2 separate regions of the Homo sapiens genome follow, and region 1 is linked to region 2. Evidence: fine-mapped expression QTL. A gene starts in region 2. The other region holds a variant in brackets. All regions are shown on one strand. Distances are from middle to middle.

The links.
Region 1: its variant is fine-mapped to the expression of LINC02576 in skeletal muscle (GTEx, PIP 0.97).

The regions. Positions count from the first base shown.
Region 1 is chr2:64,995,606-64,999,605 of GRCh38, forward strand. The region is part of intron 1 of SLC1A4 (solute carrier family 1 member 4); the gene reads left to right. Among named protein-coding and RNA genes, the nearest start is that of SLC1A4, 8.2 kb to the left of the region's middle. The variant G/GC (reference allele first, on the strand shown) is at 2,349.
Region 2 is chr2:65,028,258-65,032,785 of GRCh38, forward strand. It overlaps LINC02576 (long intergenic non-protein coding RNA 2576), which reads left to right and starts at 2,470. Exons shown (of 3, transcript NR_183398.1): 1 at 2,470-2,555; 2 at 2,689-3,002. RefSeq lists an enhancer at 2,820-3,683.

The sequences.
Region 1 (4,000 bases), 33 kb before region 2:
AGGGGGTACCAAGATCTGAAGGGTCACATCCCTGTTAACTGGCTCTGTTACAATAAATACTAGCGATAATAAATATTTATCAGGTGTACATACCATGCCATATCCTGTTCTGAAGAGTCTTTGAAATTTTAATAGATTTGGTAAAGAATTTTTGAACTTAAATAAAAGGAAATAATTCTGGAACAAAATATGCCCAAGCAAAAGTAAATTGTTTTACATTCTTTTCATATAGAACAGAGAAATGCATACCACCCTTGACAATAGGATCAGAAGAACAAACAGTATCAGATGTTACAGAACGTTTTTGAAGTTTTTCACTGTGTGAGCTGCATGGGTCTGCACAGCACCTCCCACAGTGGTTCTGCATTGGCCAGTTCAACCTCATTTCATACCAGTTTTTCTGTTTGTTTTAAGTAATGTATTCAAAGAGTCTTATAGCGCTGGAAAAGCTTGTTCATTCATTATCTCCTGGCTTGGACTGACTTGGGCCTCTAGATTTAGTAGTGTATCTTAGAGGTTTCACACGTTTTTAATTTTGACCTACCATAAAAAGTACATTTTACATTATGGCATCCACACTATACCCGCCCCCCAACTCCCACATACTCAAACCAAAACACAGGTTCCACCAAACAATATTTTAAGTGTGATATATACTGATATTTTTGTCTAATGTATTTCATCTTTTATAAAATACTGGTTAAAGCCAATACACTGATTTAATGGTCTACTGATATTTGAGAAACTTTGGCCTAATACATATGTAATTCAAGTAGATCTCTCAGGATCAAACAACAGAAAAAGGAAATATTTGCAAACTTGAATAAGATGAGGAGCTCAGTGCTTAGAAGCATCCTAACACCCAGTGAAAGTGGGTGATGTGCAGAGGCGAACACAGGATGACCATTTGGTCCTCCTGACTTCTGGACTCTGGATTTCAGTACTCTACATCTGGGCTGTCCAATACAATAGACACTAGCCACATGTAGCTATTTAAAATTACTTCAAATGTAAATAAAACTTAAAAATCAGTTCCTTGGTGGCACTAGCTACATTTCAAGTGCTCTATAGTCCAACATGGCAGCACAAATGCAGGCATTTCAGTTGGACAGTGCTGGCCTAGATGGAGCAGAAATGGGAGATGCTCAGTGACTGGGCATTGGTGTCTCTATGTGCTAAATGAGGGGATAGAACTGGATCACCTCTAAAATCCCTTCCAGCTCACTGTCTCTGATTTCAAAAGCCCATGAAGCTACTGTGTGAACATGAGGAGTTGGGAAAAATGCCTGAAGACAGAGCTCTGGGAAGCAAAACTGTTTGCCAGAGAGGCAGCTGATCCCGGATTAGAAGAGAGCTCAGGAGTAAGAACCAGAGTTTACCGCAGCATCTGTGTCTGAAAGCCAAAGGAGAGAGGGAAAGTAGAGGACAGAGAAACATGTTGCTTTATTCTGGCAGCCTCATCTCCTTGCCCTTGGTGACAGCAGGAGGGCACTGCTCCTGCTCTTGGTCTGTGGCAAGCAGAGGATGAAAGCAAAGGAGGATGCTTTCTATGGTGCTTCAGCTCACTGCCACCAGGAGAGCCCTTCCCAGAGATTGTTATCTGAGAAATGAGCTGTATAATCTAAAAAAAAGTTCAGCCCTCCCATTGAATGTACGTATTTTTTAGTTGGAAAATCTCTAACAGTTATTACCATACTTTTTTATATAAGTTTTTAAACAATTTCAAGGTAGGATTTATATACAATAAATGCACCCACTTTAAAGGTCCAGTTCAATGAGTTCTGACAAATGGATAACTCATGTGACCACCACCACAATCAAGATACTGAACTTTTCCATCACCTATGACTCTTCTCAGCAATCCCCATTCTCCACCCCTGGCCTCAGGCAGCTGACCTGCTTTTTATCACTATAAATTAGTTTGGCTTTTTCTAGAGTTTCATATCAACAGAATCATTCAGTATGCACTCTCCTTTGTCAGTCTTGTTTTGCTCAGCACAGTGTTGCTGAGATTATCCATGTTGTTGCGTATATCACTTGGCTCCTTTTTATTGCCAAGTGGTATTCCGTTGTATGGAGTTTTCATAATCTTTGTATCCCTTCATCTGTTGATGGACATTTGGGTTTTGGACTATTATGAATAACGCTGTTATGCATACAGTTCCTTTTTGCAGGCATATATTTTTATATTTCTTGGGTAAATATCTAGGAGTGGGCCGGGCGTGGTGGCTCATGCCTGTAATCCTAGCACTTTGGGAGGCCAAGGTGGGCAGATCACTTGAGGTCAGGAGTTTGAGACCAGCCTGGCCAACATGGTGAAACCCTGTCTGCATTAAAAATACAAATTG[G/GC]CAGGCGCAGTGGCTCACGCCTGTAATCCTAGCACTTTGGGAGGCTGAGGGGGGCAGATCACGAGGTCAGGAGATTGAGATCATCCTGGCTAACATGGTGAAACCCCGTCTCTACTAAAAATACAAAAACAAAATTAGCCAGGTGTGGTGGCGGGCGCCTGTAGTCCCAGCTACTCGGGAGACTGAGGCAGGACAATGGTGTGAACCTCGGAGGCGGAGCTTTCAGTGAGCCGAGATCACGCCACTGCCCTCCAGCCTGGGAGACAGAGCGAGACTCCGTCTCAGAAAAATAAATAAATAAATAAATAAATAAATAAATTAGCCGGGCGTGGTGGTGCACACCTGTAGTCCCAACTATTCGGGAAGCTGAGGCAGGAGAATCTTTTGAACCCAGAGGCGGAGGCTGCAGTGAGCCGAGATCTGCCACTGCACTCCAGCCTGGGCAACAAAGTGAGACTCTGTCTCCAAAAAAAAAAAAAAAAATCTAGGAATGGAATTGGTGAGTCCTATGGTAAGTGTATGTTTAACTTTATCAGAAACTGTCAAAACACATCACATTTTTCTTAGGAACTTGATTTTTGGGGGGCAGAAGTTGCTCTTTTGCTTCTGGACCCCTCTGTTCCCATTGGATTTTGCAGACTAGATATTGTAGACAGTCTGAAAACAGGTCGGTGTGCCAGTGGCTGTTAGGTGTAGAAGTTCTGGGTTAAGGACAGGGCCTGTTCTGGGTGAGATGTTACTGGGTTATTGCTTGTATGAAAAGATTGGGCAGGACAGATAGACAGAATTAAACAAATAGTGTTGTGCTCTTTAGAAGAGAATGCATTCAAGGCTGTGGGAAAGGCTGTGCTTGTACCAATTGAGGAAACAGCTAATCCCTGAAGGATGTGAGGTATTTGCCGGGGGAAATTGTTTCCCATGAGGAAAGTGGAGGTCTTCTAACCCAACTCTTTTCTGAACTTCCCGGTCCTCATGGAAAGAGAAACTTAGAGCAGCTCAGTCTGTCAACAACTGAGGATTGTTGTGTGGTGGATACAGAACAGAGAGACTTTGGCACAGGGCCCCTTGCTGCTTCTGACTAGGGCAGAAAATGGAAATGAAATGCCAAAGGTAGTCCCCAAGACTAAAATATGTAAGAAAGTTGCTTTGTAATGGAAATAATAACAAATGTAAGTTGTTATTCATCTATACTCCGAAAACTAGCCAATATAAGTTGCTAGTCTGTTTCTACTTTTTAAAAAGTAAATATAGCTGTGATAAGAATCAAACTTCTGGTCACAGTTTTGCAACAATTTAATTCAGCTAAAGATTAATTTTTTCTGCTTAAATGCAGACATGTACTCTGGTATTCTCTAAATATGCTAAAAGCAACTCAGGTTCTATGGACAAGTTTGGGAAATGCTGTGTTGCAGGCTGTGTATGCTGGCCGTCCTGTGAGAGCACCCTAAGTGTTCTAATGCATTGATTTTTGCATCTTATTAACTTTGTTGGCTGATACATTGCTGCATAACAAACTACTACACATTTAACAGCTTAAACAGCTTAAAATCTCACATATTTACTATCCTACAGTCTCTCTGGGGTCAGGAATCTTGGGACAGTTTAGTTAGGTCCTCTGCTTCAGAGTCTCTTACAAGGCTGCAATCGGAGGT
Region 2 (4,528 bases):
ACACTACTCTGGGAACCCTGAAAAATCCCATGCCCAGGCCATACCTGAAAGCAAATAACCAAAATTTCTGGGGGTGGGACCCAAGCACCAGTATTTTCAAAGCTGCCCAGGGGTTTCAGCCAAGGCTGACAACTGCCGGGTCAGCAGCACTGTGGGCAGCCTAGGAATTCTGCATTTAACAAGCTCCTGGCAAATACTTGGGCATGTGAGTGTTTGAGAATCACAGACCTAGTACCCTCAGCATCTGTGGGCACCCTGGTTCATGGTCTTTTCTGGAAAACTCCATTCTAGGTAATTTCCCAAAAGCCTCTAACTACAGTGGCCATGGATGACCTCATTTGAGGGGAAATCTACTCTTGTTTACACTCTGTCAGCCAAGGAGATGATCTTTCCCCAGATAAAACTGAAATGCAGGCCAGGCATAGTGGCTCACGCCTGTAATCCCAGCACTTTGGGAGGCTGAGGCAGGTGGATCACCTGAGGTCAGGAGTTCAAGGCCAGCCTGACCAACATGGTGAAACCCCATCTCTACAAAAATTAGCCAGGTGTGGTGGCGCACGCCTGTAGTCCCAGCTACTCAGGAGGCTGAGACAGGAGAATTGCTTGAACCCAGGAGGCAGAGGTTGCAGTGAGCTGAGATCACACCATTGCACTCCAGCCTGGGCAATAGAGCGAGACTCTGTAAGTGCCTCTATTGGTGTCTTGCAATACAATGTCTCAAAAACAAAAAACAAACAAAAAAACTGCAATGCAATTCATACTCTGGTTGTTGTAACATGGACAATTACAGAATCATCATTTCCATTTTTCATCTTGCTGACTACCTGTGGTTCCATTAAGAATCAAGAATTCTTTTTTTTTTTTTTTTTTTTTTTGAGATGGAGTCTCGCTCTGTTGCCCAGGATGGAGTGGAGTGGCTCGATCTCGGCTCACTGCAACCTCCGCCTCCCAGGTTCAAGCAATTCTTTTGCCTCAGCCTCCTGAGTAGCTGTAACAACAGGCGTGTGCCACCACACCCAGCTAATTTTTCTATTTTTAGTAGAGAAGAGGTTTCACCATATTGGCCAGGCTGGTCTCAAACTCCGGACCTCATGATACGCCCGCCTTGGCCTCCCAAAGTGCTGGGATTACAGGTGTGAGCCACCAAGCCTGGCCAAGAATCAAGAATTCTTTAAGAAGAGACAGTCTTTGAATGGGAAGCTGGCCTCCAGCCACAAATGCTACTTACTACAAAAACCCACGAGGTTACTTATTTGAAAGCCTCAGACAATGCCTGTGGAAAGAGGAAGAAAAGCCACATTCACAAGGATAAATAGGGCAGAGTAGAAGCCCTATCCACTGGTTCTCAATGTTGAAGGCTCATTAGATTCATCCACGCTAAAAAAAAAAAACAAAAAACCAACCCACCAGCACTCCACCCACAAAGATTCTGATTAAACTGGTTTGGGTTTGTGCCTGAATACTGGGATTTTCTTTTCTTTTTAAATTTTTATAAAGGGGAAAGTGGCCTGGTATGGTGGCTCGCTCCTGTAATCCCAGCACTTTGGGAGGCCAAGGCAGTAGAATCACTTGAGCCCAGGCGTTCGAGACTAGCCTGGGTAACATAGTGAGACTCTATCTCTACAAAAAAATTTTAAAAATTAGCCAGGTGTGGTAGCACGTGCCTGTGGTCTCAGCTACTCGGGAGGCTGAGGTGGGATGATCATTTGAACCCAGGAGGTTAAGGCTGCAGTGACCCATGTTCATGCTGCTGCACTTCAGCCTAGGAAACAGTGAGACCTTGTCTTAAAAAAGCCAATACACCACTAGGGTCAGTAAGGTGAGTGGAATCCTGGGGTCCTCCAAACTTCCCTGGCCTTCTCCCCACTTTCCTCTTTATTTTTGTTTTGTTTTTTGCCATATATTGGCATTTTTAAAAAGAGCCCAGGCCGTGTGCAGTGGCTCACACCTGTAATCCCAGCACTTTGAGAGGCTGAGGCAGGCGGATCACCTGAGGTCAGGAGTTCAAGACCAGCCTGGCCAACATAGTGAAGCCCCACCTCTACTAAAGATAAAAAAAAAATTAGCCAGGCATGGTGGCACTCGCCTGTAATCCCAGCTACTCAGGAGGCTGAGGCAGGAGAATCGCTTGAACCCTGGAGGCAGAGGTTGCAGTGAGCTGAGATTGCGCCACTGCGCTCCAGCCTGGGCAAGAGAGAGACTCCGTCTCTAAATAAATAAATAAATAAATAAATAAATAAATATTTTTTAAAAGAGCCCAGGCGATTCTATAGTAACACACAAACAAGGCTGCAAATCCTGGACTGGCCGCTTCACATCCCTTTCTTAGCACAGGTGCCTTCTCTTCCTAGTTAGTGCTATTTGCATGAAGCATTTCCAGGTGACTTTCAACTTCCCTATATTCAAACGTCCTGCCATCCGCTCTTTTGCATAATAAAAGTACATATGCCACACTGAGTATTGTTCTGTGTAAAGCTGATGGTGCTGTTCACATCAGAAATTGCAGCACTGAAGAACAGAGTTCATGCAGACTTTTACAACATGCATCAGCTACAGTGAGTATTCTTGCATGCTTTTGGCCAATGCAAGCTCTCATGGCACGCTGTACTGTAAGCTCCGGGTCGGTGTGCACTTCTGTTTTGTTCCTGCATTTCAAGCCATGCGAATTGACATGTTTTCTTCCCCAAGGCATTTGTTTGTTGATGGTACCAGCTGTCAAAAACCAAGCAAGTGGCAGTGCTAGAGGTGCCACAAAAGTGCGAAGGAAGTGTCAGGCTGGATGTCAAAATGAACACCTTGGAGAACTGGATGATGGAACAGACGGTAAAAATCAGCTAAACATCAGAGAAAATGGAGGAAGAGGTCAAAACTGTGAACAGGAACTAGAAGAAAGTGTAGCAGAAAAAGACTTGTCACAAACTTCGAGAGATTTGGAGAAAATGATGTCAAAACACATCTTCCTCAAGCCCATGCTGAGTATCTCTGATTTGGTTAATTTCTTGGTAAGTGTTCCAAGTACAGACAACAAAGCAGAAAAGCACTGATTACAGGGAAGAATTAAAGAATGTACAGAATTTCTGGGACGGATAGGGAAACAGGTGGGTGGCTAATAGCCAGGAACAATGTAGTTAAGAGTGCTGAGTTTCCGCAGCAGGTGCTTGCCCACACCTGTGACATTAGGAACCGGGCAGTGGAGCCTCCCTCAGAGCTACCCCAATCAGATCTCCCAGCAAGCTCTACCCCATACGGCCCATGCCCACCTTCCCAGCTGCAGCTTCTGAGTTTCACACAGGTGCTCTGCTTGGCAGACCTGCAAGGAAGTCTGAAAAAGCAGTTTGTGGTTTTCCGTCTGTGCAGCTCAGGAAGGTACACCTGATGGGAGTTAGCTGGGCTTTGGCTAGCCAACCTGCAGGGTCTGGAACTGCTTCTGTTTGCAGGACGCATCCCCCTATTCCAGACAAGCTCTGGATTCCCCTAAGTGCCTATTACATGACAAAGGCAGGCTTTGTGAATGAGCGAATACATCAAACCCTCTCATAGTGCTGCTGCCTACCAGCCAGTGGGTCTGTTTCTGTGCTGCCACCAACTTTGTTGAGCAATATTTGTCTTACAGCTATTTTGAGTATTTTATTGCACTGCCTTTGTTCTTTTATTCCACCCCTCTTCCTCTCTCTCTAAGTGAAAGAAGTGAAGTAACGATATTTGTGATAAGAAGTGTAGTCTCATACATTTTATGAAACTGAAACAATTAAAATTACCAGTAGTATCCGAAGCAGCCTATCTATATCCTCAATGAGACCTCAGTGGGAAAAAAGATCTACTGCCTCTTCACCTGTAAATAACACGTGAAACTGCTAAGACCGTGTTATTGAAGAATGTGGCTAGTGGGCAGAGTGCCATTTGGAATTTTATAGTCGTCATTATCTTTCTGGGAGTGGAACCTCCCTTATAACGTGGAAGGCTATTTTCAACTTTTGCACTTTTTTACTTGGATGCCTTTTCCAGACTCTGTTAACGTTTGGAATTGGGTTTCACTCTACAGAGAAAGAGAAGCAGGAGGACAGGTGTAGAGGGGAGGAGAGGGAGGACCGTGGGTCGCAGATTGGGCCTATTCCCCTGCACTCACCACTTTGTCTGTCACTGCCAGCCCGCTCCCCCCTTTTCAGATACCAACACCAGGCCAGGGGTGACAGCCCAGGAAGGTGGCATCCACAGCCCTCAGCCCTCTGTCCTTGTCATTCACTCCTACCAGTCCTCAGCCCTCTTATCTGTCTGGGAGTGAGATGAAGGGCAGCTGGAAGCGGGAGGAAAGGTCCTCTCCTCTCCACTACAGTGACAAGAGGTTTGGAGGAGCTTCTGGGTGAGGCTTAGGGGGTGACCCTCCTGTGCAGAGCGGCATGGGCTACAAAAGAGTGGATGTTTGTCCTGTGTGTGGGTCCCTCCTGGGGGCTAAAATGAAATCTCCTTTCATTTTCTGATATCATGTGATCTCTGACTTACAAACCTACTTTCCTGTGCCATTTCTGTC